Regions from separate parts of the Homo sapiens genome. Here all the other regions are linked to region 5. The links come from fine-mapping of genetic effects on gene expression. A gene starts in region 5. Each other region holds a variant in brackets. All regions are shown on one strand. Distances are between the middles of the regions. Region 1 has its middle 8.7 kb from the start of MED10. Region 2 holds the start of LOC124900933 (a long non-coding RNA gene). Region 3 has its middle 12 kb from the start of MED10. Region 4 has its middle 2.9 kb from the start of MED10. Region 5 holds the start of LINC02145 (long intergenic non-protein coding RNA 2145). Region 6 overlaps LINC02145 (long intergenic non-protein coding RNA 2145).

What was found. PIP is the estimated chance that this variant, and not a neighbour inherited with it, causes the effect.
Region 1: its variant is fine-mapped to the expression of LINC02145 in spleen (GTEx, PIP 0.93).
Region 2: its variant is fine-mapped to the expression of LINC02145 in esophagus muscle (GTEx, PIP 0.96).
Region 3: its variant is fine-mapped to the expression of LINC02145 in whole blood (TOPMed, PIP above 0.99).
Region 4: its variant is fine-mapped to the expression of LINC02145 in tibial nerve (GTEx, PIP above 0.99). The same link has a PIP of 0.9 or more in sun-exposed skin and visceral fat.
Region 6: its variant is fine-mapped to the expression of LINC02145 in thyroid (GTEx, PIP 0.95).

Annotation. Positions count from the first base shown.
Region 1 is chr5:6,384,816-6,389,762 of GRCh38, reverse strand. No RefSeq gene overlaps it. Among named protein-coding and RNA genes, the nearest start is that of MED10, 8.7 kb to the right of the region's middle. The variant T/A (reference allele first, on the strand shown) is at 2,268.
Region 2 is chr5:6,404,883-6,409,829 of GRCh38, reverse strand. It overlaps LOC124900933 (a long non-coding RNA gene), which reads right to left and starts at 630. Exons shown (of 2, transcript XR_007058678.1): 1 at 503-630. RefSeq lists enhancers at 960-1,254, 450-1,649. The variant A/T (reference allele first, on the strand shown) is at 2,249.
Region 3 is chr5:6,364,163-6,369,109 of GRCh38, reverse strand. No RefSeq gene overlaps it. Among named protein-coding and RNA genes, the nearest start is that of MED10, 12 kb to the left of the region's middle. RefSeq lists a silencer at 1,526-1,693. The variant G/T (reference allele first, on the strand shown) is at 2,544.
Region 4 is chr5:6,378,955-6,383,901 of GRCh38, reverse strand. No RefSeq gene overlaps it. Among named protein-coding and RNA genes, the nearest start is that of MED10, 2.9 kb to the right of the region's middle. RefSeq lists an enhancer at 4,901-4,947. The variant C/T (reference allele first, on the strand shown) is at 2,198.
Region 5 is chr5:6,334,882-6,339,828 of GRCh38, reverse strand. It overlaps LINC02145 (long intergenic non-protein coding RNA 2145), which reads left to right and starts at 2,537. Exons shown (of 2, transcript NR_028351.1): 1 at 2,537-2,679.
Region 6 is chr5:6,307,799-6,312,745 of GRCh38, reverse strand. LINC02145 (long intergenic non-protein coding RNA 2145) reads left to right here. Exons shown (of 2, transcript NR_028351.1): 2 at 30-2,305. Among named protein-coding and RNA genes, the nearest start is that of LINC02145, 27 kb to the left of the region's middle. The variant T/G (reference allele first, on the strand shown) is at 2,845.

The DNA of each region.
Region 1 (4,947 bases), 50 kb before region 5:
CAGAGGTTACAAGTAAAGTCATAAATTCAAATATGGAGACTATACGTTGGTTTGACCTAAAAACGTAGGACAACTGGAAGTTGGGGGCCCACAGGTTATAGGTGGATTTAAAGATTTCTGATCTGTGATTGGCTAAGGAGGCAAAGCTTTGTCTAAAAATGTGGGATCAGCAGAAAACAATGTTATTAGGTTGGTGCAAAATTGCACGTTTTGCCACTGAAAGTAACAGCAAAAAAAAAAAAAAAAAAAACCTGCAATTACTTTTGCACCAAACTGATAGCTCTAACTTGTGGGTGTGACGTTCCCAGGCCCCTTAGGAAGAAATTTAGAACAAAGAACAGTGACCAGAGTTTAGTTTTTAGTTTCCCTTAATTTGAGGTCTATGTGTTAGCAAATCTGTTTGGTGGGGGTTCAGGTTTTTGAAAAATAACTCAGGGACATATGTTAAGGTGTTATTTTCAGTTTTTATAGGGAATAACATATCTCTTGACTAACTTTTTTGGCTACTGTTTTAAGCTACTATTATCTTTTTGTTTATTCAGTTATTTTTCAGTGTGAGCTAGGTGCCTGGAATTTTTCCTGAAGGAACTTAAGAGTTTTCTTTATTTCTTCACTGGGCAGGGGGTGACCTGCAGGCCCCTAGGAGGAGTCCCTGCTCCATCTCACTGAAGACCAAGACAATTCTAGAAATGGGCCAAAGTCATATACCAAAGAAGTACTGGGGCTGCGTCCCTTCCTGGCCATACCTGAGCTCCACTTTAGACAGCCAGGGGGACATAAGAAATGCCATTTGGGGTCACTGAGGGCTCAGTGTGGTCATGAGCTCCTTGGTGGGAAAGTACAATGGCTCTAGTTTCTTTTTTTTTTTTTTTTTTTTTTTGAGACGGAGTCTCGCTCTGTCGCCCAGGCTGGAGTGCAGTGGCGGGATCTCGGCTCACTGCAAGCTCCGCCTCCCGGGTTCACGCCATTCTCCTGCCTCAGCCTCCCAAGTAGCTGGGACTACAGGCGCCCGCCACTACGCCCGGCTAATTTTTTGTATTTTTTTAGTAGAGACGGGGTTTCACCGTTTTTTAGCCGGGATGGTCTCGATCTCCTGACCTCGTGATCCGCCCGCCTCGGCCTCCCAAAGTGCTGGGATTACAGGCGTGAGCCACCGCGCCCGGCCCTCTAGTTTCCAACATTGTCATTTATGAATTAAGTAGAATGAATGCTGCATTTATTTATATTGTAAACAAAAATTTATATTGTAAAAACAACCCCCCCCCCAAAAAAACCCACCAAACACTCAACTTTTTAGCTTAATAAATTCAGCGAACTCTATTTCTTATTGCAGAAGCAAAAATTCTCTCATTTGTTTGCTGTGGTAAGAATATGATGCCTGAAGGATCAGATACTCAACTCTACACCCTTTCTTGGCAAAATATTTACCCAAGTTTCAATTTCTTCATGAGAAAATGGGGAGCAATCATACCCAGCCTAGGGAGGATTGTTTTTGATAATTATATTTAATATATGTAAAATACCTAGTACAATCCTTGACTTTGGATAGGTTGTCAATAAATGGCATCATCATCATCATCATCATCATCATCATCATCATCATTACTGTTGCTTATCCTAATGTGGCACCCACAAGAATGCATCTTTCAGATATCTGATGGTAAGGGCAGAATTAACCAAGGGCCCTAATGCTCTCCTTTGAAATCTATTGCACTTTTTGCCTCCATGGGCTGCTCAGCCAATGACTGAGTGAGTGATGCAGGAAGGCTAAGGTTTGTCCATTCCTGGGGACTCTGCTGGTGAGCGATTTTGGTTTGGGGGCTTCTCAGTGGTCTTACCAAACTCTCCTTAGGACTGTACCACAGTCTAAGATGCTTCTAGACTCCCTTTGTTTCCTCCCTCCCTCCCTCCTTCCTTCCCTCCCTCTCTCCCTCCCTTCTTTTGGGATCAGACCTGCATTTTGTTCTGATGGTTCTTCCAGCCATGCTGGTTCCCTTTTTCTGTCACATGTATTTCTTCTAAGAAAGTTCTTGTTTAATCCCATCCTGGGATCTGCTCCTCAGAGGACGTGGACTAACGAAACTACAGCCACCTTCTAGAAAGTGAAGGAGGTGAGCCCAGTTCTCTTGTCTTGCGTATTAATAGCCAGGTATTTGTTCAAAGTTGTGCAGATGTTGGTCCTGTCTCCTCTGAGCTTCCATCCTCCATAATGAAGAATTTTCATATATTCTTACTTAGTTTTCTGAAAAAGCGCTTTCTTTTTGCTT[T/A]TTTCAGATGCTTTCTGCTGTACAGTCTCCTGGTTATCTGTCTTTCTTGATCAGAACCGGAGCAGGTGTTCCAGGCCTGCGTGCACCACGATTTTCTGCAAGGTAAGACTTTGTTTTCTGGGTCATCCACAATGAGAAGAGCATATGTGAGAAGAGAAATTGAGCATAGCTCATTTCTCTTTGGAGTGTTTAAGACAAACTTAGACTTCAACTGAAAGTCATTAATTTTTACAAAACGCTATGAGATAACAGGGCTTACACCGTGTGCCGAAAGACCCAGGAGGGTGAAGTTGCTATGCAGCCTAGAAAAGTTTGTATTTCTATGCTTGTGTGTATAATCTGCTAAGGAGTTAGATGTCTTACCTTATCCCTATTTCTGTAATGCTGTCCTGCCCTCTCTTTTGAGCTTGTGACAATTTGTAAAAAAAAAAAAACAACAAAACAACAACAACAACAACAAAAAAACAAAGCTGATAGTGAAAGCCAACTGCATACTTCCATTTGCTGATTGGATCACATGCCAGTCTGTATTAGTGTAATCTCATCTTTTTGCTTTTAAAAATTTGATCACATACATCACACAGAATTCCAGGTAGAGCTGCACATTGCTGCAAATATTGCATAGAAAGGAAAACAGAAGAGAAGAGAAATCTTACGGCTTCTCAATGCTTGTTAGTGTAAAAAAAGATACAATTTCTATTTTTTTATTGCACAAGTCAGGCACTCTCATTGGTATGTGAATCTAATAGAATGAACGGGAAACCTAATTTATTTGAACATTCATGTGTCAATGTAGCTCTTGAGGGAAAATAATGTCAGCATTTTCTATCAGATGAAATTATTCTGTCTCCTAATTCTGTATTTAGGGATACTTTTTTGGCTTTCTTTTGACCACATATGGTTCAAATTATAGTAGCTTCCTTTAGGGTTATGAAGAATAAATGAGACAGTCTATAATCTATAAAATATGTTCCAAAATGGCAGATATTGTCATCAGTATGATCATGACCATCACCATCATCACCGTCATCATCATCACCATCATCATCAAACAACAGAGTTGCAAATCTTCCCTTCTGCTAGAACTACTAATGTGCTGAAAATCTTCAAAGTGAGAAGCAGAAACCAGCTGTTCCTTCCTCTGGGTAGGAGAGCTGCATTTTTTTTTTTTAAACTTAAGCTGAATCTGGCTCTTAGAATAAATTAGAATGAATGGCAAAACATGTTCCAAATGATACCACTAAGGGCTTTGGATGCTGATGGAGCGATAATAGTGTGAATGAAAAAAAAAAAAAGGTAAAGAAGAAGGGAAAAAACAGCCTCCAGATTTCAAGGTCACCAAGTATCAGAAGTAAGGAAATTTCCTAGGGGCAGCTCATGTCGACTTCGGAGGGAAAACAAGGCGACAAAACGTATAGTCAGCAATGCTCTGTAGGCTTTCTGCACACGGCTTCCTACCAGGCCGACCTTCTGACTTACTGGAATTTTCCAACCTAATTTCATTTACATTTGGGGACTGGAGTGTTGAAATGTTAAAACGTTTCTTATAAACAAGCCAACAGTATTATGTTGCTAAATAAAGGGAAAGCAGCCATTACTTAGCTGTTTGAGTAAAAGGAAGAATTTCAATGTAGGTTTTTTGTTTGTTTATCTTTTTGTTTATTTATTTTTTTTTTTGAGACGGAGTCTCGCTCTGTCTCCAGGCTGGAGTGCAGTGGCGCGATCTCGGCTCACTGCAACCTCCGCCTCTTGGGTTCAAGCGATTCTCCTGCTTCAGCCTCTTAAGTAGCTGGAATTACAGGCACCTGCCACCACACCCAGCTAATTTTTGCATTTTTAGTAGAGACGGGGGTTTCACCATGTTGGCCAGGATGGTCTTGATCTCTTGACCTCGTGATCTGCCTACCTCGGACTCCCAAAATGCTGGGATTACAGGCGTGAGCCACCGTGCCCGGTCTCAATGTAGGTTTAAGTGGGCTTGGGATGCTTTTTGTTTCAGCAGGGAACAATCTTCACTGGAGTAGTCATTGTGGACAACTGGGAGATGAGTGCTTTAGAAACTGTAGCTGATGGTTAATCACAGGGACTAACACCATCATTATGCTCGTTATGGCCTGGTCCTGAATTAAACATCCCGCGATCACAATACAGACAACGAGTGCTGCTGGTCTTGAGCAGAGAAGGAGGGGTGTTACAGTTGAGTTATATCCCCTCAAAAAAGATATGTTGGAGTCCTGACCTCCAGCGCCTCCAAACGCAACCTGATTTGGAGATGGCATCTTCACAGAGGTAATTCAGTGAAAAACTCCAGTCATCAGGGTGGGCTCTAATCCAACCCGACTGGCGTCCTCATGAAAAGGGGAAATTTTGGCCACAGAGACACACACAGGGACAACACCGCGTGAAGCTGGAGGTGGAGAGGAGGGATGCTTCTGCCAGCCAAGGAACAGCAACCACTGCCAGCAACCACCAGCAGCCGGGAGAGAGGCCTAGAACACGACAGTGAAGCTTCCGGCTGTGTCCAGGACTTTAACAAACATGTTCCTGAAGTTTCATTATTGAGTCTAATGCTTTCTCTATGTTCTTAGTAGATAAAACATCTTTCATCAGGTTTAGAAAGTTCTTTTCTATTCTTAGTTTTCTCAAAGGTTTCTTTTTAATTTAATTTAATGTAATTTTA
Region 2 (4,947 bases), 70 kb before region 5:
ACATTGTGTGTCAGATTCTCCCTTTCTCTTGCTGAGCATGTAGCTGTTTTGTACCCTAAAGGAGATATTGCAAGGTTCTAGCCAGCGCCTTATTCTTTAATAAACTTTTTGTTTCGGAATAATTTTAGATTTGTAGAGAATTTGCAAAGATAGCACAGGGTCACACAGGGATGGTTCCAAAAGTGAGCACATTCCTAAATTCACACTCCAGCACCTCAGTTACCTACTCCTAAATCTAGCTACATTCCCGCGTATCCTTCACCTAGCTTCCTCTCATGCTCCCATCTAACGTGACCATCGTGCTTTTGCTACAGCTAAGAGATGAAGGTTCGTGCATTCCTATGATCCAAACACTAGACTTCATTTGGATTTCACTCATTTTTCTACTTATGTCCTCTTTCTCATCCAGGATCCCACACTGCTTAATCTTAGTTTGTTTGTGCTGCTGTAACAGAATATCTAAGACTGGGTAGCTTATAAATAACAGAAATGTATCTCTCACTGTTCTGGAGGTTGGGAAGTCCAAGATCACAGCGCCAGCAGGTTCTGTTGTCCAGTGAGGGCTGCTCTCAGCTTCCAAGGAGGCATTTTGTTGCTGCATCCTCCAGAGGGGAGGGACGCTGTGTCCACCTGTGGCAAAACAGCAGAAGAGCAAGCTAGCCAAATGCTGCACGAAGCCTCTTTATGGGGGCCTTAATCCTATTGACAAGGGAGAAACCCTCATGGCCTAATCAACCCTTAAAGGCCTCACCTCTTGATACTATCACATTGGCCATGAAGTTTCAACACCTGAATTTCGGAGAGGACACATTCAGACCACAGCATTGGTCATGCCTCTTTAGTCTCCTGTGGTCTGTGACAGTTTCTCAGCCCTTCCTCGTTGTTTTTCCTGACCTTGACACTTTTGAGGAGTGCTGGCAAGGCATTTTGTAAAATGTCCTTTCATTTTGCTTCTCTGTTGTTTTCCTCCTGTTTACACTGGGTTTCTGGGTAATTTTTGGAAAAAATACCACGAAGGTGAAGATTCCTTTGTATTGCATCATGTCATGGACATGACATCACTGGGGATGATAACCCTGACCTTTTGGGTTTGGGTGGTGTCTGCCAGCTTCCTCCGCTGTCATGTTACTACTTTCCCTTTGCTCTGCTCTTTGGAAGTGAGTCACTAAGTGGAGCCCACACTCAATGGGGCAGGGGCGGTGTTAAGCTCCACGGATGGAGGGGAAAGTTCACATACATTATTTGGCTTTTTTTTGAGAGGTGGGTCCACATGTCCCCTGAATTTATTTTTTTGCCAACAGATAACGAAAACATCAGTAAGGCAGAGAGCTCTTGTTCAGTGATGACATGACAGATGTTAGTGTCTGGTGTCTGGATGGCCAGTGCTACAGGAGTGGCCGTGGTACCCCAGATGATGGGGCACCTAACCAAAGGCAAGAGGTGGAGCTACGTGAGCCTGATCAGATGATCTGCTGACCTCAGTCCTGTTTTGGAGAGCTGCACTGACCACTAACCAGGAAACGAGGCTCTGCCCCAGCCCGAGACCTGCTGCCAGGCCTTGGTGGTGTCAGGGAATGGGAAAGCTCCCTGGCAATACATAGACAGTCATAATTAATGGAGACATCACAAGACAGTTTCCTGAATGAAGGTAGAAGTGACAACCTCCTCTTCAAGGCTATAATTAAAGAAGCAGTTGAGAAATGTTATCTTTCCAATCCTGCATATTCAAACTTATCTGTCACAAACATATTGTTAAACTCCCCCTTAGGTCTCGGTTGTCACTTTCAAATGCCTGCTTGCAGCCACGGTTTATTATGCCTTTACTCTTGAGTACTTTTACAGAGCACTTATGCCTTTCGAAGGGCTATCTAGGTCTTCCGTAGGAGGGTGAGGGTTCAAAGCAAAGCAAATCCACCTTAGGTCTTTTATCAATTGTTCCAGGTACCTGTACTGGGAACAATCTCGTAAAAAGCCCAGCTTTTTTAGATGCATTTTCTTCCTGTTAGGTTTTCACATGGGAAGATCAACAGTGTTACCAAAAATGGACTGGAGTCTATAAGTCATTAATTGAGCTCTGTCCAGGGTGCCTAGGATTTTGTTTCTCTCATTTAAAATATTTTAATGCAGTAGCTTTTACTTGTGATATTTATTTATTGTTGAATCTCTTCAGAAGAGGAGAAGCACTTTTCACCCCCATGGCCAGATCTGTGCCTATAATCTCTGGAAGGAGAAGAGGGAAGGAGACTCG[A/T]ATTGCATTTGCAGGGTCAGCACAGGACTGAGCCATCGTTTCTTTTTGTTGCAAGTTTGTGATGTTCAGATGACACGAGGCAGGATTTGTGCCTTGTTGCTGCTCAGGGCTGGCGACACCGTGGGTATTCCATTATCGTATTGTAATCACAAAGAAAGCAACGTGGTGGCTCCGAATTCACGCCTGCTGGATCAATACTGCTTGTCTGGTCTGATTTGTTTGTTGTTGTCAAGTCAGACTGCTCTGGAATTGGAATATTGAGGGGAATGCATTTCAGACATAATCGTGGGAAATCCTCAAAGAAGCCACCCTGATGAGAGAGCAGAAAAACTTCTGGATAAGATCTGCCAAATAGCTGAAGTTACAGTGTCTGAGGGGCTTATTTATTTCATCCCCAGGATCTGTTAATTACTTCCTCTCCCCATTTTATTAGAGGCAGAGTGTGGCTGCTCCCCACTTCCCCCACCATTATTGCTTTGTTCTTGGAGTGGGCAGAATGGTCAGGCTAGGCTGTGCTATGCATTTTGTTCATTTCTTCACCTGGAGACACACATCCCTCTGCCCTATGATGACTGACTCATTCCCAAGGTTTCTGGGCTGATGTTAAGGTAAATGCTCTTTTCTGTACAGATCCCATACCTTCTTTGAAACAGAATCCTATGAACGCTGAAAGCAATGTGGGTTCAGAAAGTGTTGTAAGGGGTAGAGGGCGTGGAGGCTGGCACAAGGCTCGCAGCTCCCTGAGGTCTTTGTTCTTCTCATCAGCAGCTCCTGCCTGGATCTGCCCTGTTTGTTGTGATGTTGAATCGGGTCACCACCCAAATGACAGCTGGCTTTGGTTTAACCTGTGTTTTTCCAGAGAAGCCTTTGGCGTGGAATGGGCATTCCTGGAGCCACTGGAATTGTGTGGTGGCAGGAGCCCGGAAGCTGGTATGCCTCTGTGAGAGTATCCTTGCTGAGGAGTGGGGGGGGTGGGGGGGCACAGCTATTTGACCTCTAGGGCACCTCACCCCCCGCAGGAACAGGGTATGGCCTGTGCAAGCAAAAATACGCGATCAAGCTGTGTCTTTCTGCAGCCAGTTGTCCCATGGTCAACTCTGAGGGCTCCTGAGATGGACCATGCTATGAAATTGGAGCTGTCAAGGAGGAATCAGGCTCATTACAGAGATCCCTGCTCACCAGTGCTTCTGCCACAACAATAAGTCATGCCATCAATTTTCAAAGTGCTGATGCAAATGCCCATGGATCATGTTCAAGATTTTATGAAACTTAATTAAACAAGATTATTCACCTGTATTATGTAACTGTACATGCATATTTGCACTTAACAGTATTTCTAATTCAATGTCAACATCACAATTCACAATGAAATATGACCCTGAAAATGAAAGATGGAAGTTGACATGAACACTTTTAAAAGATTTTTAATGTGCTTCTCACTGAGATATGTAGCATTTTCAACTTTTGTACAATCTGAAATGCATTCAGCACATTGGTAAAGAGCTGTGCAGATTTCAGTTAAAAAACAAACAAACAAACAACAACAACAACAAACAAACAAAAAACACAAACTGTTGCTAAAGCCAGAAGGGACATTTCAAATGGCTTTTTTTTGAACTACATTCCATGGAAAAATTTTATTTCACTTGTGCCATAGAAACATGGGCTTCTGGCACTGGGACAAACCCTACAGGTCATTGGTCACAGAGCCCCATTTTGCAAGTGAGTGACCAGAAGCCCAGAGGAGGAAAGTGGCCCACCAAGGCTGCCACTAACGAGGGGAGAACCATGCACTTGAGTTGGGGCTGATGGCAGTTCTGGGCATGCCCACTGTTTGCTCAGGGAGATGCAGGCCTTGCTGGCTTCGGAAGTAACATCCGTGGATTTGACATCCCCGCCCCCCATAGATCCTGTTATTCTCAAGGCTCCTTTTCTTATATTTTGAAATTTTCTTCCAATACTTTGCCAATATTAAGTTACTTGCTAAGAATGCTGGGCAGAAATAATCAGATGGAATAGCCAAAAGATCGGTTATCACATTCAACTAGTACAGTCCTGCTACAAAACCACCTGTATTAAAACAGAGAGAATGGCAGGCGCCAGATGGTTGAAAAGGGAACTTTATTTGTGTGTGCCAAGTGGAATTGAGAAATATTTGGTCAACAAATATTTCTCAGGCTGGGCCTGGTGGTTCACGCCTGTAATCTCAGCACTTTGGGAGGCCAAGGTAGGTGGATCACTTGAGGTCAGGAGTTCGAGATCAGCCTGGCCAACATGGTGAAGCCTCATCTCTACTAAAAATACAAAATTAGCCAGGTGTGGTCGGGGGCTCCTGTAATCCCAGCTACTCGGGAGGCTGAGGCAGGAGAATCACTTGAACCCAGGAGGTGGAGGGAGGTGGCAGTGAGCCAAGATCACACCACTGCACACTCCAGTCTGGGCGACAGATTGAGGCTCCATTTCAAAAAAAGAAACCCAACAAATATTTCTCATTGAGATTCTGTATCCTGATGTGCATTGATTTCAAAATTGATAAGTTTTTTATTTTTTATTTTTGAGAAGGGGTCTTGCTCCGTTGCCCAGGCTGCAGTGCAGTGGTGTGATCATAGCTCACTGCAGCCACGGACTCTTGAGCTCATAGAATCCTCCTGTCTCCCTCCTGAGTAGCTGGGACTACTGAGGCCACCATGCCTAGTTAA
Region 3 (4,947 bases), 29 kb before region 5:
GCCACGTCACAAGACTGTGGCTCTCCTGGGCTTAGTTTATCAGCTCCCATTGGGTACCTGTGTGCTTCCCAGTTCTTCACTAATATGAAGTTATTATCTTTGACCATACATCTTCCACTTGTTCAATTGTTATTTAGGGTAAATTCCTGGAAGTTGAGCTGTTGGAGTTACACTTGATTAGGATTGTGATACCATCTGTCTCTATTGTGCTCAAGTCCTGAAATAACCAGGTGTTAGGTACAAGGGGAAGCGCTCATCTTTGGGGAGTATCAGTAATGTCACTGAGTAGTTTATCAGTTTTCTGTGTTCTTTTTTTATTTCCATTTTTTGAATCCTATCAAATATATATGAGTGCCTCATTAAAATATTTCTACAGTCAGTGACAATACAGGTGCTGGCTACAAACGAGGTCACATGTTTACCCTGTATAGCCAGGTGAGCCTGCTGTGTTTCCTGCCACTCACCTGCACAGAAGTGACCCATCTGTCCAAGTGACAGAGGTGCCATTGCCCCAAGGGAGTTCGACAATATACAGTCCTTGGTTCTGTCAAGACTCAGGTGACGTTAGGTGGCAGGTGTACCACTTCTTAAACTTTTTAAATGTATCACAAACCTAAGAAGTTACAAAGGAAAAGATCGATACATTTGGCTGTATAGCTGTTAGAAAAAAATAAATAACATAAGGCTAAAAACACCATAAACTCAAAAGGCAAAAAAGCTAAGAAAGTTCTTTTTTTTTTTTTTTTTTTTAAAAATAGAGACAGGGACTCACTCTGGCCCAGGTTGGAGTGCAGTGGCACAATCATAGCTCACTGTAATCTTAAATTCCTGGGCTCAAGGGATCCTCCCACCTCAGCCTCCTGAGTAGCTGGGACTATAGGTGTGCACTACCATGCCCAGCTAATGTTTTTTATTTTCATTTGTAAAGATCAGGTTTCACTATATTGCCCAGGCTAGTCTCAATCTCCTGGCCTCAAGTGGTCCTCCCTCCTTGGCCTCCCAAAATGCTGAGATTATAAGTGTGAGCCACTGAGCCCAGTTGTAATACTTATTATACATATCACAAGGAACTTCATGACTACTATGCAGAGCTCTTTCACAAATAAGAAAACCCAGCAGAAGAATAGGCAGGTGTTAATTTTTACATTATATAAATTTTACATTATATAAATTTTACATTATATTCAAGCAATAACTTGAATGTCCATTAATAATGGCTTAGATAAATCGTGCTTTATCCATTTGCTGGATAACTGTGCTATGACTAACATGAATGAAGGAATGAAGATCTGTATGTATTGATACAGAAAGACGGACAAATACATAATTACAAAACACGTTGATTCAGTCAACATTAGCTGAGGGTCGGCCTTGTCCAAGCTCCATCTGAATGAGTTTCTCCAAGGCAGACTTCTGCCTACTCGTGGCAGAACCACCAAGGAGCTTATTAAAATGCTGAATCCAGACCCCATTCCAACCAGCACAGCTTCCGGAGAGCCCTCTCTTTCCTTGACTTCTAAACAGCATGCTCCAGCAGAGGTTCAGGTTTGGGTTCCTCGAGGCATCTTTCCTTACCCACCCTCTCCCTGGACAAGCTCATCTATTCCCTGGCACCGGTTACCATCCTGTGCTGAGATTCCAGGTTTATAGCCCAGCCTAAATGAGTCCTACACTTCTGTAACCCAACTTCCATTTTTTTCCCCCTCTGCTATTCCCCAGGAACCTCCAACTCAGTGTCTCTAAAATTACACAGATACGTTTCCTACCCAAGTCTCCCTCTGTGTCTGCCTCAGAAAGTGGCATGAACTTTCAGCTGGTCATATCATCTTTGCCTCCTTTCTGTCCCTCCCTCTTCCCCTGCCCTGGTATCATTGCCATCACTAAGTCTCCTAAATACCCCATTTCCTTGCTTTTATTTATTTATTTTCACTCCAGTCATACTCGTATTTCATCCTCTCAGTCCACCACACCTCCACATAACTCACCTCTTTCCTGGCTCACCTGTGCGCATCTTTCAGGTTGCAGTGTAAAAGTCATTTCTGTTATCTCACCTTCTCTGACACCTCAGACCAGTGCTGGTCTGTTTGTCAAACTCTCCTTTGACATCCAATAAGTATCAAAGGTAGCTCTCAGAGTTACAGAGGAAGTATCTGACCTTCAAGACTGTCATCTCCTTAAGAGTCTGGACCACACCAGCCTCGTCCACTACTATACCCTGGACTTATCACAGTGACTGAGACGTAATGGGTACATATCAATTGTTAAACGAATGAGCAAACTGATGTATGCATTTGGCCTCAAATTCTATAACACAAGTAAGTCTGGGTGTTTAAAGAACCAGCAGCAGTGTTTGTCTTCTTCTTTGTACCAAAAGATTCTCTTCTGTGTTTTTGGAAGAAAAATAACTAAATGACACAAAAAGAAAACAAATGACATGACTTGGTGATAAGGAAGAAATACTGTGGGTGGCAGTGGGAGTCACACAGCTGAGAAAGCCAGAATTTTTGCAGATGGCCCTGGCATACACGCGCTTCAGCAGAACT[G/T]CGGGAGTGCAGATCCTCTGAGGGTAGGACGGGCTGCAGTGTGTGGGACCACCAGGCCATGGGGCAGGAGAGGTGTGTGCATAGGTCGCTGCCGGCAGGAGGCATGGGGAGAATTTCTGTGTCCCCAGCAGTGTGGCAGGAAGCCCCTGAGGACGCTCTGCCAGAGGAAGACTTGAACTTCCTCATTTCCCAGGTGGAGGTCAGTGCCCCCTTCCTGAGCTGGTAAGTACAGGTTCTCCACGGAAGACACAGACAGAAGCTCCAGCTTGTCATTTATACACATACAGTTTCAAAGCCACACACATACTGGGCTGTTTGTTTTTGGTAAGTGCACGGCAAACACAGAGTTGGGATGCACGTGCCCGTGTAATTTTAAACACATTGGAAAGATAGAGGAGGCCAGTTCTAATTTGAGGACTGTCTAGCTGCAGTGATTTATCGTACACAGACCTGAAGCATCACCACACTGCCGTGTTGGCACAGATGCAGATGGCATCGTTCTCACTGGTTTTTGGAGACTAGAGCCCTCTGAAGTATGAATACCCTGCTTACAAGCAGGCCGAATGGCATAGCGGTTGCATCACCAAGCTGATTGCTAAGCCAGGTGTTTTGTAGGCAGAACATTATTATTTTGAATAAACTCAATAGCAACTTTTTAGTATCAACATAAACCCAGCCTTTCAGGGGCTGGCTGACTGGCCATGGGCGTGTGGCTGGTCAGGGAGGGGCTGGGTGTCCAGCAGCATCCTGTGACTCACAGCCCTGTGCTCCATCCACTTTGATACTGGAAGGCTTGCACGCACCATGTGTACTCAAATGCTGAAGCTGAGACTTAAAAAAAGATTCCTCCAAAACAGTCATGAAGTCTACGTGGTTTGAGGTGCCCAAGCTGACCCATCTGGGGGTGTTCCCTTACCTGGGTGGACACAGCTGGGGACCCAGCTCCTCCATCCCTCTCTGGAGCCCTGTCAAAGCCCAGGTCTGCTAGACAGTGTCCCTGCGGTTGCCCCGATGATCCTGCCGTTTGAGGCTTGGCCTCATCACAGGGCTTGGCTCTGGAGGCAGATGTAGCAGCTTCGATGGCGCCACTGCAGAGGGCAGTGCCAGCTGCCATTGTCCTCGGGAGCCCAAGACCAGCATCTCCAACTCTGTGGAGAGACCCTGGAGCTGTTCCACAGTAAGAGGTGTTGATCACTGACTCTGGATCGGGCACTGTGCGCAGGTTTGAGGGATGGTACCTCGTTTATCCCCAGACCCATTCCACTCACAGAGGGGAGCCAGGGTCCCGAACAGGGAAGGGACATCTCCGGGGTCACACATGCAGTAGGCCAACTGCAGCCTGGATTTTGCTGGGAGGAGGCGTCTGCTGCTCAGACTGCCTTTGGTCATTCCATCAGAGAGAATGTGCTAGAGGTGGAGGGCAGGGGGTACTGAGGGAGATGGGGAAGGTGACTTGCCTCGTGCTGCGCGATACTAGGTGGGCCGTGCTGTGTGTGCTGGTCTCACCTTCAGCTTGCAGGAGCTCTGAGCACGTCACACCCTGAAACCACTGGGGCTGTACTCATTGCTGGTTGGGGCGAGCAGTGGAATGTATTGGGATGGTTGTTCAGGCAGAGTGTGAGTGGGAATGCAGGTGCCAAGGTGATCAGTAACCCCTGCATGGAAGATGCCATTTCTTCCAGCTGCCAAAGAGCTGCATTAGGAGCAGGGACCTCAAGGAACCCTGTTTTGGTTCCTGCTCCAGTCCCAGATTCCCGGTTCTGTTTAGAAGGCAGCCTCTAAGTAATAGAGCTAATTCATTTCAATATGACAATATATATACACACATATGTGTGTATCCATATGTATGTACTTACAAGCTCCATGTGCATGCATCTGTGTGTGTGTGTGTGTGTGTGTGTGTGTGTGTGTGTGTGTAGTCATCCAGTCTTTTAGGGACTTAGGGATAAGGCAGGGCAATTGGGGAAGTTTGCACATGGGAGCCTGGACTGGGTTGAATGGTTCTTCCCCCAAAATCGTGAATCGTGTCCACCTGAAACCTCAGAATGTGACTTTATTTATTTTTATTTTTATTTTTATTTATTTATTTATTTATTTATTTATTATACTTTAAGTTTTAGGGTACATGTGCGCATTGTGCAGGTTAGTTACATACGTATACATGTGCCATGCTGGTGCGCTGCACCCACTAACTCGTCATCTAGCATTAGGTATATCTCCCAGTGCTATCCCTCCCCCCTCCCCCACCCCACAACAGTCCCCAGAGTGTGATGTTCCCCTTCCTGTGTCCATGTGATCTGATTGTTCAATTCCCACCTATGAGTGAGAATATGCGGTGTTTGGTTTTTTGTTCTTGTGATAGTTTACTGAGAATGATGGTTTCCAATTTCATCCATGTCCCTAC
Region 4 (4,947 bases), 44 kb before region 5:
CCCTTGGGCCCATGTTGTCAGGACCTCCTGAGGCTGTGTGACAGGCAGGTGTCTTTAACTTTGGCAAATAAACTTCCTAAATTGACTGAGACCTGTCTGTCTCAGATACTTGGGGTTCACGGCTTCAACAAGTTCTCATCTCACCTGCTCCTCTATCAATGTGACTTCTTACTTCTTCCACCGGGAAGACAGGTTATGTTCCCTCCCTGGGGATCTAAATGTGCCCTGGCTGTCGGGGGACTTCCCAGGCAAGGTCATAAGAGGTGGTGCTGCTTTCACCTGCTTCTCCTGAGCTCTGTGCTCTTGGCACCCTGCCACCATCAGGGAGGAAGCTCCCAAATCCCAGGGACACACCCACACGGGGGGGATGTGTGGTCGCCAGCCCACAGCCCCGCTGAATAAGCCATTGTGAAAGCAGGTCCTTCAGCCTCCAGTGAAGCCACCCCAGCCCATGTGACATGGAGCAGAGAGAAGCTGTGAACGCCATGCACAGGCCACAATGCAGATTTGTGGGTAAAATGAAGGACTGAGGTTGTTTTACGCCACTAAGTTTTGGCATGGTTTGCTATACAGCAATAGATGCCTGATGCATGACAACTGATCTAATTCTGATAATATCTTACTTAAGACTTTTGTATCTACTTTCATAAGGAAGATTGACCTATATTTTCTTGTATTGTCCTTGATGATTTTCATATAAAAGTTATACTGCTCTTTCAAAATGAGCTGGGATGTATTTCTTCTTTTTCTAGTCTCTGAATGTATCTGGGTAAGTTTGAAATTATTTGTTCTTTAATGTTTGATTTTTAAACAATTAGTATAAAAAACTGTCCGAGCTTATGTCTCTCCTATCTTTGAAAGAGATTTTTGCCTACTGGCCAGTTTATTGAAAGACTAGGAACTATTCTAATTGTTTATTTTTCTTAAGTTAATTTCTGGTAGTTTCCTAGAAAATTGTTTATATCTTCTAAGCTTTCAAAATTATGAACATATAAGTTTTACCCTCACCCTCACTCATTTATAATACTGTATATTTTTCTCTTTTAGCACCTTTCTTTTCTTCTTCTCTGATGAGACTTGCCAGAAGTATATATATTTGACTCATCTTTTCAACAATCAACTTTTCTTCATTTTTATCTTTCCAGCTTCGAATGCAGCTAGACAGAAAACTAATGCAATAGTTCTCATTTTCATCAGTGTCTGTCTTTACTTTTGTCACCCCTTTTTATGTATTTTTTGGTGCCTGTGATTTCCCTTTTGATTCTTTTTATCCTACTCTTTGAGTTGAAACTCCAGTTTATTTTTTCCAGGCTGTTTTCCCTCAAATTATTACCTCAGGAGTAAAGCAGAAGTTTGACAGGGAATTCTTGTCATTTAATTCCAAATGTTTTATAATTTTCCTTTTAAATAGGATGTCCACATAACGTATCAACCAAACTGGGACATGTTTGACAGTGAGTGGAAGAGTGCTATTAATAATCACACGAAGACAACAGACATAATTGGGTCTTGCCCATTCTCAGATGTATGTAAACTCATGAATTATTTAGAGTGTGTTTTGATTTTCGAACGTGTATGTATGTGTAGAAAATGAATAAATTCATAGATTTCTACTGGAATTACGAGGTCAGAAAATCTGGTCTATGTGATAGGATCTGAGTTTGCTGAAACTTTCTTTGTGGTCTAGGGAATGGTCAAGTTTTTGTAAGTATTTGAAATGTGCTTGGAAACAATCTATTCTTCAGGGGTCACTGTTTTTCAGAGATCACAATTCTTAATATATTACTTAAGTCTTCCATATTCTTCATATGCTTTTTGGCCTACTTGATTTATTGTTTTCTGATAGAGGTACTCCAAATCCTCTGTAATAATTATGGATTTTGAATTTTTCCTCATATTTTGTCAATTTTTGTGCTAGATAATATGGGACTATGTTGTCAGTTGCTTATAGGTGAATAGTATTCTATCTTTAATGAGTCTTCTCTTTACCATTAAAAGCATCTTTTTAATGTTTCTTTACTAACTTTTATATGCATTAACAACTTTCTTTTGGTTGCCTGCCATATATTATTCTATCCTCCCTCTTTATTTTCAACCTGTCTATAAGTTTGTTTTAGGTGTACCTTTGAAAAGCAACATAGCTAGATTAAAACAACAAAACAAAACACTTCCAATTGGATTCTAATCTGAGAGTCTA[C/T]CCTAACAGTTAAATCTGTTAACATTTAACTGTTAGGATAGACTAACAGTTAAATGTTAAATTAAATAATTAATTAATTAATTAAATTAATTAAATGTTAAATCTGTTAACATTTACTGTGTTCACTAACGTATGTTTTTAGTGGGGAAGGCACACATTTAATGACAGGGAACACAGTTCATGATACACTTTTTAATTTTATTTTTAATTAACAAATAATAATTGTCTATTTTTATGGGGTACAGATGTTAGAGGCATTTGAAGCAGAGCAACTCCATCTTGAATAGGAGCTGGGTAAAATAAGGCTGAAACAAACCTACTGGGCTGCATTCCCAGATGGTTAGGCATTCTAAGTCACAAGATGAGATAGGAGGTCGGCACCAAATACAGGTCATAAACACCTCACTGATAAAACAGTTTGCTGTAAAGAAGCCAGCTAAACCCCACCAAAACCAAGATGGCAACGAGAGTTCTCACTGCTATACTCCCACCACTGCCCTGACAGTTTCCAAATGCCATGACCTGTTAGGAAGTTACCCTAAATGGTCTAAAACGGGGAGGCATAAATAAGCCACCACTTGCTTAGCATACAATCAAGAAATAACCATAACAGCAAGTAACCAGTAGCCCTCGGGCCGCTCTGCCTATGGAGTAGCCATTCTTTATTCCTTTATTTTACTAATACACTTGCTTTTACTTTACTATATGGACTCACCCTGAATTCCTTCTTTCACAAGATCCAAGAACTCTCTCGGGGTCTGGACTGGGACCTCTTTCTGGAAACACAGATATCTCTTTGACATAGTGATTTCAATTCCTTTGAGTATTGTGAAAGGAAAATAAATTTTGGGGCCCCCAAATCACTAAGCTAAAGGGAAAAGTCATGCTGGAAAATGCTCAGGGACAACCTGCCTCCCATTCTATTCAAAGTGATCCCTTTGCTCACTGAGATAGGTGCATATCTGATTGCCTCCTTTGGAAAGGCAAATCAGAAACTCAAAATAATGTAACTATTTGTCTTTCACCTACCAGTGACCTGGAAGCCCCCTCCCTGCTTTGAGTTTTCCCGCCTTTCTGGACAGAACCAGTGTATACCTTACACTTACATATTGATTTATGTCTCATGTTTCCCTAAAATGTATAAAACCAAGCTGTGCCCTGACCACCTTGGGCTCATGTCATCAGGACCTCCTGAGGCCGTGTCATGAGTGTGTGTCTTCAACCTTGGCAAAATAAACTTTCTAAATTAACTGAGAACTGTCTCAGATATTCAGGGTTCACAGTATATACTCAGAAGTAGGACTGCTGGATCATATGGTAATTCTGTTTTTAGAGTTTTGGGAAACTTCCATTCTATTTTCCATAAAGGCTGCACTAATTTACATTCCCATCAACAGTGTACAAGGGTTCCCTTTCCTCCACATTTTCACCCACACCCATTGTCTTTGGTCTTTTTGATTATAGCCCTTCTAACAGTGTAAGGTGACATCTCATTATGCTTTTAATTTGTATTTCCCTGATGATATGTGATGCTGAGCATTTTTGCTGGTCATTTTTATGTCTTCTTTTGAGAAGTATCTGTTCAGGTCCTTTGCCCATTTATAAATTTCTTCTTTTGCTTTTTTGCTGTTGAGTCGTGTGCCTTTAATTTTTGCACTTTACGTTGTGAGTTTTATTTTCCATGCTTGTTCTTTGCTTCTTTATTCTCTTCTTTTCTTGCCTTCTATTGAGTTGATTGTGTTTTCTTTATTCCCTTCCCCCTGTCTACTAGTTTGGGAATTATATATACTAGCAAAGAGATACCCTTAAATTTTTAAAATAAATACTTACCAAAGCCTAAGTTCCATCAATTATCTATCTTTCTTACTTATGAAATTGAGAAAGGCCGTTCACTCCATGTCGCTACCTCTACCTAATAACTTAAAATTTTTTATTTGTCTAATATTTTATTTCCACCTTTTTTTTTTTTTTTTGAGTCTTGCTCTGTTGCCCAGGCTGGAGTGCAGTGGCATGATCTCGGCTTACTGCAACCTCTGCCTCCTGGGTTCAAGCAATTCTCCTGTCTCAGCCTCCCAAGTAGCTGGGACTACAGGCGCACACCACCATGTCTGACTAATTTTTGTATTTTTAGTAGAGACAGGGTTTCTCCATATTGGTCAGGTCGGTCTCGAACTCCTCACCTCAGGTAATCCACCTGCCTTGGCCTTCCAAAGTTCTGGGATTACAGGCCTGAGCCACCACGCCCAGCCTCCATCTTGTTTTATAATTCCCTAAAGTTAATTGTTGTTAAATCAGGAGAGAAGTATTTTATGTAACATTTCTGTTTATCAGCCCAGCCCACCAACTGGAGTGCCCTGATTCCATAAGTTTGGCAAGTCACTTACCTTCTCTGGCTTTCCATTTCTGGTCACAGCTGGGAGAGGCTCTGAAGATCATCTAGCAAAGGAGCTCCCTCACTTTGCCTGTTTCTAGGCACTGAAAAGTACAGGCCACAAATATATTCAGTAAAATAAATCACTTGAGAAATTCAAACAGGCTAGAGGAGATATCCGCTATCATAGGAGATCGGGCAGAAAAGTTTCTTAAACATAAGAGTGAAATGACCTAAACTGAATTTCAATGAGATAAACAGCAGTTTACTAAGACAGGGCAACCCCACAGGGTGCTGTTTGGTCAGAATTGGCCCGAGGAGGTGAGACCCTGACCTACGAAGGCAGCAGGTGTCCGGGAAGCATGGTTAGCAGCAAGAG
Region 5 (4,947 bases):
GGTGTCGATAGGGCGGGTCCCTTCTGTAGCTCCAGGGGAATATCTGGTCCTTGCCTTTCCCAGCTTCTAGAGGCTCCTGCTTTCCTCGGCTAGTGGCTTGTGGACCCTTCTGTCTTCAGAGCTGGCAGTGTGCGTTTCTCTGTGCCTTTCTCCATAGTCATATCTTCCTCTGACCCTGACCCTCTTTTCACTTTTGAGGAGTTTTGTGATTACACTGAGGACATGAAGACCATCCAGGACAAGTGCCCTCTTTCAAGGCCTGCTGATTCCATCTGCAACCTCAGTGTCGCCTTGCCACGTTACCTAACATAGGCACAGGTCTGGAGATCAGGACTTGGATGTTTTTAGTTTTTTTTTGGAAGTACTGTTCTGCCTTCCACACTCTCTGCAGCTTTTCTGGTGGATGCTGCATCAGAGGTAAGGAGATGCCGCCTGCACCACCCTCCACTGCCCACCCACACACCAAGCTGTAAGGTTGGGTTAAGTTTCTGATGCAACTAGGCAATGTGACCCCACGAAAGGGGCAGAGGGGCACCTGTCACACATGGGCACAGGCTGTGGGGCCAGCTGGCTGGGCTCACATCCTGGCTGCACCTCTCATGAGCTCTGTAAGCTCCCTGGGCCTCCCTTTCCTCACCTGTGAAATTGTCACAGCATGCGCACCTGCCCTCTGTGCCATGTGGGACTTGGGGGAACATCTCTAAAGCCCTTTGCCAAAGGCCAGTCAGGTAGCAAATGCTGTGTGAGGGTTTGGGACATAAACACACACTGGCAGCATGCCTGAGCGAAGCTTCCGTGGCCTTCTGAGTGTCTGGCCAGGTCATTCTGGGAGCTGTCAAATACACCTGGCTGTCTTCCTTTTCTGGTCACATGGTTCTGGACCCTTTGTCCTTTGTTGGGGCCATTGGCTTGTTCTGGAAGCTGTGCTGAGAGCACAAGTGATGTCGAACACCCCAGGTCAGAGTGTTACCATGCCAGAAGGCCCCAAACACAGATGCTCACCCCAAACACATTTTGCTGTTGGCTTCCTGGCCTAGATTCCAGCCAGGGATCCTCCTAAGGAACCTCTCTGGTCTCCTCCCGAGCTTGCAAAGAGAGGTCTGAAGAAAGCTTGCGATTGCTGAGCATGGGGGCTGGAGCACTCAGCGCCTGTCGCTCACATCTTATTTGAATTTCAGAAAAACAGGAAAAGTAAATGCATGAGATTTTTCTATTCAATTTCAAAGCCTTTTCCCAAAAGTGACTTTTGATAACTGTCATTAAAAGGAAATAGACACAGTATAAAAAAAAGCAAAAATCTTATAATGTAAAAATTACTTGATTTCCTCTGCTTTGCCACTGGTTTAATAAAAAAAAAAAAGCTCCTTTTCTACTTAAAGCTGGCATGATCATTGAATTCATAGACTTATGTCGCTGCTGGTCTTAGTGCTTAATATATACAGTGACTCATTCTACTTAATGGCATCAACAACAGATGCAGAGAAAATGCTTCACAAGCCCAAAGATTGCAGTTGGAAAACCCCGTGCAGTGGGAACAATTCTTTACTAGCCCTAATTGAGGGCAGCTACTCTTTGTGCTTGCCTGTGACAGTTTTTTTTTTCTCTCTCTTTTCCCTCCTCTCCTTACGTGTCCACCCAGATTCTGCAACCCATAGATGGTGGTCTGTGCAGACCAGCAGCCAGAGTCTGCCTTTGGCCTCTGATGCTGTTGTCCTCAACATATTTTCTCCTTCTGCACCCCTGCCCACAACTCCTCTGTGCTCCCCCTCCTCAGGGCTACTTCCTACCTGAGGGAAGATCAACCAGAGGGGGCTGGTGATCAGGACCCAGGGCAAGGGCTCCAGGGAGAGTGAGCTCACATTTGCTGGGAACCTGGGAGCACACGGTGCTGGGGAACCTGCCATCCCCCAACTCAAGTGTGAACGCAGAGCTGGATTTCAGCATCACTCAGGCCCTTTGTAATATTTATTTTGTGCATTTCTTTTTTTTTTTTTTTTGAGATGGAGTCTCACTCTGTTGCCCAGGCTGGAGTTCAATGGCATGATCTCCGCTCACTGCAACCTCCGCCTCCCTGGTTCAAGTGATTCTCCTTGCCTCAGCCTCCTGAGTAGCTGGGATTACAGGCGTGCACCACCATGCCTGGCTTATTTTTGTATTTTTAGTAGAGACGGGGTTTCACCATATTGGCCAGGCTGGTCTCGAATTCCTGACATCAAGTGATCCACCTGCCTCGGCTTCCCATAGTGTTGGGATTACAGGCAGGAGCCACTGTGCCCAGCCTATTATGTGCATTTTAAGACAATATTTTATAAAAGGATTAGGAACTTTTTCAGGCGGTTGAAGAGAGCTCTATTAGAACAAAAAAGGTTGAGAATTCCTGGTGGAGATAAAGTGCAGGGAGAGAGAAAAGTTAGAGGACACGCTCCCTGTCCTAGGACTTTGGGGTGGCAGGGCCCTGAGGCTCTGAGAGCAGCCCAGACTTTGCCCTTATTCTCTGTGTTTCAGGGCCTCGCTACCTTTCCAAGGCAACATCGTTCTTGGAGCACCTGCTGAGGTGCTCTCTGCTGGGGGCCGTAAGTGAGCATCGAAAAAGCTGTAAAAAGTATCCCTGCTGCTCTCCAGGGACTCACAGCATGGACGGCACCTGCATTGAGAGAAGACGGCAATGGTATCGTGATGGTGAGTCTGTTGCCGCTGTATAGAGAAATGGGGAGGGAGAACTCAATTGCAACTTGGGAAGAAGATCATCTGGGAGGAGGTGGAGCCTTTCTGTCTTGAAGGTTGGGTCTACCTCCAGGTGTGAAGGAAGGACATTTCATATACAGGGGAAAGAGGTTTAAAGTATGGAGCTGGTGTGTGTGTGTGTGTGTGTGTGTATGTATGTGTATTTGCACCTGGAAGCATGAGTGTGTGTGCACGTGTGTGCTGGCATCTGGGTCTGTGGTCACAGATGTTTGCACATGTGTGCATGTACCTCTTTGTGTGTGCATGTACCTCTTTGTGTGTGCATGTGTGTGTGGCTTATTTGTGAAACAAAACCAAAAGCCAGATGAGGAAACTTTATGGGAAGCGAAGTCTGAAGACAGATGGGGCCCAGGCTGCAGACATCTGGAGGGCCAGGCTGTGAGGGCAGGGCTTTGGCTGTGTGCGGGGCAGTGGGAAGCCTAGTGGGGTAGGAAGGGCCACTTTGAGATGGTGCAGTGGTGACAGGAGAACACGATGACTGAGGCCAAGAGCTCAGTTAATATTTCAAGTGGGATGTTGTGAGGCCTGAAATAAGGCTGACATGGAGTGGGTGGGGAGGAGGGATCTGCATCATGGGACCCCCTACTCTGGAAGTTGCTTGGCAGCTGCCCATCAATCATTGAATAGACATCTGTTGAGTTTCCTGCTTCCTGCCCTGCACTGTGCTAAGTAACAGAGGTACAGAGCATCTCAGTCACCTCCATGGTACTCAGACCCCCTCCCAATGCGGTCACACATTGCTAACAACAGTGCTGCCAAAGGAACAGCTGAGCACTATGTGTGCGGGTGGTGCTAACTCTTGCATGTGGGCTGTGCCAGGTGTGTGCCCAGCGCTTCCTCAGGAGGCATTAAGGAGCAAGCTTCCAGATACCCGCTTCTCAGCCCAGCTCTGGCTGTTGAGCTGCTTCCCCCTGTGGGATGCTGCAGCTTCCTAACTGCTGCAGTTTTCAAAGTGTGCAAATCTGATCTAGAGAAGTAAGGCCACTAGCTCCAGATGGGCCCACAGCTGTTGGGTTCAAAGGGCTTCAACGAGCCACGATTATTATCTGTGGTCTTGATAATAAGATCATTATCTTATTCTGTGTTCCTGTAATAACGACGTGTTTGTAAATGTTGACCCTGCAAGGTGACAGGTAGATAAAAATGCCTATGGTTCTGATAAATAGTCATTGGATATTTATGTCATCCAAGGGTGGTGGCTTTGGAGTGTGGAAGGTAATAATAAGACAATAATCTCGTGATAATAGTCTGAGATGAATTATATCTTTAATTATGCTTAAAATAACTTTTAAAGAATAAGTAAGTGAATAAATAAGCAATGTGACAAATAAACAACTGGTGTCAACAACTCTAGAAGTTTGGGGAAAATAAGTTTCTAAAATTCCTTGACCCTCCTTCCATCAAGAGATGGGGTCTCTGTCCCCCTTTGAATCTGGGCTCCATATTTCTTGGCCAATACCTCTTTCCCCTGTATATGAAATGTCCTTCCTTCACACCTGGAGGTAGACCCAACCTTCAAGACAGAAAGGCTTCACCTCCTCCCAGATGATATCCTTAGAGAATGGAACTTCGTGTCTGATGACTGAAGTGAGCTTAGGCCTCCCTGGCCAGCTACCAGGGCCTTCCTATGTGCTGGCACTGGGAGGTCTGTGTCCTGAGCTCGCCTGGCCCTCAGGCTGGGCACACACCGCACACCAGTGAGCAGCAGCCATGTGGTGCTGGCAGCTTGGTGGGCACAGCAGGCATGGCCACGAATCTAATGCCTGACAATGACAGGTGTTGGAGCATGTGTCTTAAGCAAGCTGGACAAGGTGTGCATCAGCCAGCAGAAGGGAGACAAGGATGAGCCTGCTGCCCATCTACACTCAGCTCCTGTCTTTGTCTTCCTCAGCCAGTGGTGAGGTGATCTATAGTGGTTCTGGGACAGTGTATTATGGCAGAATCAGGTCCTGGGAGGTGAGCGTGGCTTCCTGCCATGAGCTACCACAGCTCAGATGCCTAAATATTTAGTGCACATTCTGTTCATCTTCCTATAGACTGGGCATTCAGAGCACAAAATGCTGTTGCAATTCTTCCTCCCATAGGAGGGCATCTTGAATGTGCCAGGGCTGGTTTCCAGCCTCTCCCATCCTGCTAATGGGTGCACGCTTTCCATGAATTGCTGTGTGATGTTCACACGGAGGTACGGTGTCAAGGGGGTTT
Region 6 (4,947 bases), 27 kb after region 5:
TGTGTGTGTGTGTGGTGAGAACACTCTAGATCTACCTCTTTGCTTTAAAAAGGAAGAAAATCCTCCATCCAACAACGTAGATGGCCCTGGAGGATGTTATGCCAAGTGCAAGAAGAAACGAGAAGGACAAATGCTACATGATCTCATTCCTATGGGCCCTGCAACAGCCACATCCTTCTTGACTGAAGACATTGGCCTTGCCTTCTATCAGGTTTCCCCTCTCCTGGGGTTCCTCTGCCTGCTCTCTCAAGACACATGGAACATGTACACGTGCCCAAGATGGATCGGCCGCTCAGCCGAGCCTCCCAGTGCTGCCTGCCAGGCTGGAGGGACCCGTCTTCTAGGGACATTGCACTCCCCTGCTCTTCTGAGCTGACCCAGTCTTGAACCCCCCCTTTTTTTCTGGCTCATGTGGTGCTGCCTGGTGTCAGAGCCTGGCCTTCTCATATCTGCCTTGTCCCTGCACAGCCTGAACGCAGGCCCCCAGAATAGTCCTGGCTCAGGGCCTGGAAAAAAAATCACCTAGTCAGAACACCAAATTACAACTCAGAAGGTTGCTTAGTGAGCATAAAATTGGAGCAAAGAGAAGTGGATATTCTGAAGGGATGCTTCCGATGTGCTGTGGTAGCAAGATGCATTGTTCTTTTCGACTCTGGGGCTATTTCCAGAAAAAGACCTGGGAGGGGACCTCTAAAATTGGGACATCCATCCTCCCAGACAGTGCTGAAGGGCATGAATGCACTCCTCCCTCTCCTTCCTTTGTTTAAAATATTCCTATCATTCTCCAAAGGCCTCCGCAATTACAGCATTATGCATTACAGGTTTCAAGATTGCATTTAATCTTTTATTAGTTCCATCTGCATCACTTGCTTCCTGATGAGATTTTGAGGAGTTGCCTTAATCTCATCAGCCCTGTATTTACAGATCTTATCCTCATAGGATTGCCTCTGGGAAGATTTTTGCTGATGGGCAAATCTAACCATTAGAGTCAAGGCCTGGATTTCATGCCACTAATCATGTCCATAGCCTGCATGCGGACAGATCACCTGCCCCCCTCGGGTTCCCAGGGCCTCCTGCTCCCAAGCTCCTCTGCCTATTTGCCCACAGGCTTTGCTTCTCTCCCAATGCAAGTGTGGCTTCCTCAGAGGCAGGTCTCTGAGTCTCCTGGCCAGGAAAGACCCTCTGATATGAACCTGTAGCACTGCACACCTCCCTTCATAGTGCCCAGCCGTCGTTATTCTTCCCACCTTTAGGGTTTGAGTAGATGACTGTGTGTATTCATTTCCTAGGGCTACTGTGACAAAACATAGATTAGGTGGGTCCTACAGTTCTGGAGGCCAGAAGTCCAAGATGAAGGTGCCCTCAGGGGAGGATCTGTCCCATCTCTCTCCCTAAGGCTCCCTTAAGACTCTAGGGAGGATCTGTCCTGTGCCTCTCTCTGTTGCCCAGGCTGGAGTGCAATGGCATGATCTCGACTCACTGCAGCCTCCGCCTCCTGGGTTCAAGTGATTCTCCTGCCTTAGCCTCCTGAGTAGCTGTGACTACAGGCGCCCAACACCACGCCTGGCTAATTTTTGTATTTTTAGTAGAGGTGGGGTTTCACCAGGTTGGCCAGGCTTGTCTCAAACTCCTGACCTCAAATCATCTGCCTGCCTCGGCCTCCCAAAGTGCTAGGATTACAGGCATCAGCCACCACGCCTGGCCCTCTCCCAGTTTCTGTTGGCCACAGAGGTCCCTTGGCTTGTTTCCACACTGTGCACTCTAATCCTCCATCTTCACATGGCCGTCTTCTCTCTGCATTGTCACATCATCTTCTCTCTGTGTATGATGGTGCCCACGTTTCCCCTTGTTTTAAGGACACCAGACATATTGGTTAGGGCCCAAACCCTGAGGCCATTAGGCCTGATTTTACCTTGATTATCTCTGTTGGGACCTTCTTTCCAAATAAGATCACATTCTGAAGTCCTTGGAGTCAAGACTTCAACACTCCATGGCATCCTAACGAAGTCATTGACTTTCTTTGTTGTTACTTTCAGCATATCCCCTGTCTGGCACAAAGGGAGCACAGTTGACCTGTGAACAGTGCAGAGGTTAGGGACTCAGACCTACCTTGCAGTAGAAAATTTGAGTATAACTTTTGATTCCCCCAAAACTTAAGTACCGATAGCCTCTGTTGACCAGGAACCTTACTGATAATTTAAACAGAAGATAACACATATTCTGTATACTATATGTGTTATACGCTGTATTTTTACAATAAGGCAAGCTAAAGAAAATAAATTGCTAATAAAAAATCGTAAGAAAGAAAAATATTTACCATTCATTAAGTGGAAGTGGGTCATCAAAGGGTCATCGTCCTTATTATCTTCATGTTGAGTGAGCTAAAGAGGAGGTAGAAAAGGAGGGCTTAGTATTGCTATCCCAGGGATGGCAGAGTCAGAAGAAAATTCACATAGATGTGGATCCACAGGGTTCAAATCCACGTTGTTCAAGGGTCAACAGTACTTCATAGCTGTCTGTTGAAGTATGAATGAATGAATGAATGAATGAATGAAAGACGGTTATCTAAGGTCAGGTCATCCCTCCTCCAGGCCCCATGCACATGTGCTACCCTTCACCATAGAACTGCTCACAGGCAGCTAGAGGTGGTCTCATCATCCAAGACCCAGTCTTTCTCCTCCAGTCCTCATGATTGAGAATCTGAGTTTGTGGAAATATTCAATGAATTTGCTTTTATCTTCCCTCCCTCAGATTAATGAACAGGAGAAGGAGGTGGGACAATAGAAAGAATATGGTCTTGGTAAGGGGCATCATTGCCAGATTTAACAAATAAAAATATAGGAT[T/G]CCCAATTACATTTGAACTTTTCCCAAAATTGTGTAAGATGTGTTTATTAAAGTTATTTTTTGTTTATCTGGAATCCAGATGTAACTAGGCATCTTGCATTTGCCTGGCAACTCTGCTGTGGTTGGCACCTTATTGGTGGACTAGATTATTGAAAGTTGCAGGCAGATCCCTCCACAGATTGAAAAGTGGGAGGTAGAAGGATGAGGAGCAGATGTGGGTAGGGCAGAGACTCAGGTAGATGTGCAGTGGCTATCTTTGGTCTTTCATCCTGTTACTCCTGTTTAGGAATAAACAGCTCCAGGACACCTCTCCGCTTGTCACCTCTCCCTCTCCATTTATGCCATTTTCTCTCTTTCTGCCTCTTCTTTGCTTCGTCTATGTGTACTTACACAGTTCTTACATGTAATTACTGACTTAACACTAGTAGTGTTTTCTGTTCTAATCCCTGTCTGCAAGCAATTGGCCTTGCATCAGATGCCCAGGATTGACTATTCGACTTCCAAGGCCATGTTCCCACTGTGAACTGACCTTTCATTGTTTGTGGATGACTTCCAATTCTCCACACTCAGGGACAATCTGGGTTTTACAGAGAAGCTTTCTAGGTACTAGGTGACAAGGTCTATTGTTATTCTCACCTACAAAATGGCAATAGCAATAGGCTAACCTCATACATTGTAAGGATTCAATTCAATAACTCAATTAAGGTATCATGGATGTAGAATATAGTAAGCACTTAAAGATGTTAGCTATAATCATTATCATGTTCACCACCACCACCACCACCACCACCACTATTTCATTATTATTATCATCACCATCATCATCACTATCATTGTCATCATCATCACTACCACTGTCATCACCATCATCACCATCATCTCCATTGTCATCATCTCCATCATCATCATCACCATCACCATAATCTTCATTCTCACCATCATTACCATCACCACCACCTCTATTATCATCATTGTTATCATCTCCATCATCATCATTACCATCGCCATCACCTCCATTATCAATGTCATAATCACCATCATTACCGTCATCATCACCATCTCCATTATCACCATGATCATCATCTCCATTATCACCATCACCATCATCACCATAATCTCCATTATCACGATCATTATCATCATCATCACTATTACCATCATAATCATCATCTTAAATCTCACCATCATCATCGCCGTCATTACCATCACCATCATCATCACTGTTGTTAAAAATCATGAGCATCATTGTCACAATCATCATCATTTCACCCATGTATCTGTTAGGATGACTTTTCCCCCTAAAAACCTGGATTGAGTTTAAGTTCTTATTTCACCCCCATGGAATAACAGTGCTTTCACCAAAATTTTAATAAATTCTCCAGCTGCATACATCCTAAAGGTTGCCTTTGGGCCAACAGGATCCTGCTTCTACTGACTTAGTCTGCTGTAGCAATTATCTTTCCAGTGAGCAAGTATGATCCTCTATCTGCATGGCTTTGATCCTGACATGAAATTCATCACTCACCTAAGAGTTTAAATATGTAGAAGACTTTACAGAACTTTCAGAGACATGGTAGAGTTAGTATTGTAGCTATGCAAACTTAGTTTTAGATAGTTCTGTTCACAGCAGCCCCTCTCCATTTCTTCAATCTGTTTCTCATACTTCTGCCATGTTAGCTCCTTCTTTCTTCCTCTTATTCTCTCAAACCAACCCCCAATTTCTTTTCATATGTGCTGCATCTGCTGATAATTTATGTTCTCAAAGCCTTCCTTTTCTTCTAAGTAGCTCATTAAAGTGTTTCCCTAAACACTCTTCCCTTTCTAAAACTGAGTCTGGCATAAGCTATTCAAATATTAAAAGTTCTACTGAACTACAATTGGTTTGAAAGCTGCAGTGAACAGACTGGACTGCCTTCTTTTAAAGCACACTTTCCCTTTTAGCAATATAATTCTATTCAACTTTTGCTTTCAATGTGTGGCACCAAATCTCTTTCATCTCAAAAAGGCAGCAGTCTTTTCAAGAATACTCTGGAAACACCTTTCCCTTAAATGTTTTATTTGATTATCAGCACTGCATTATCACTATTTTCTAATTATCGTCAT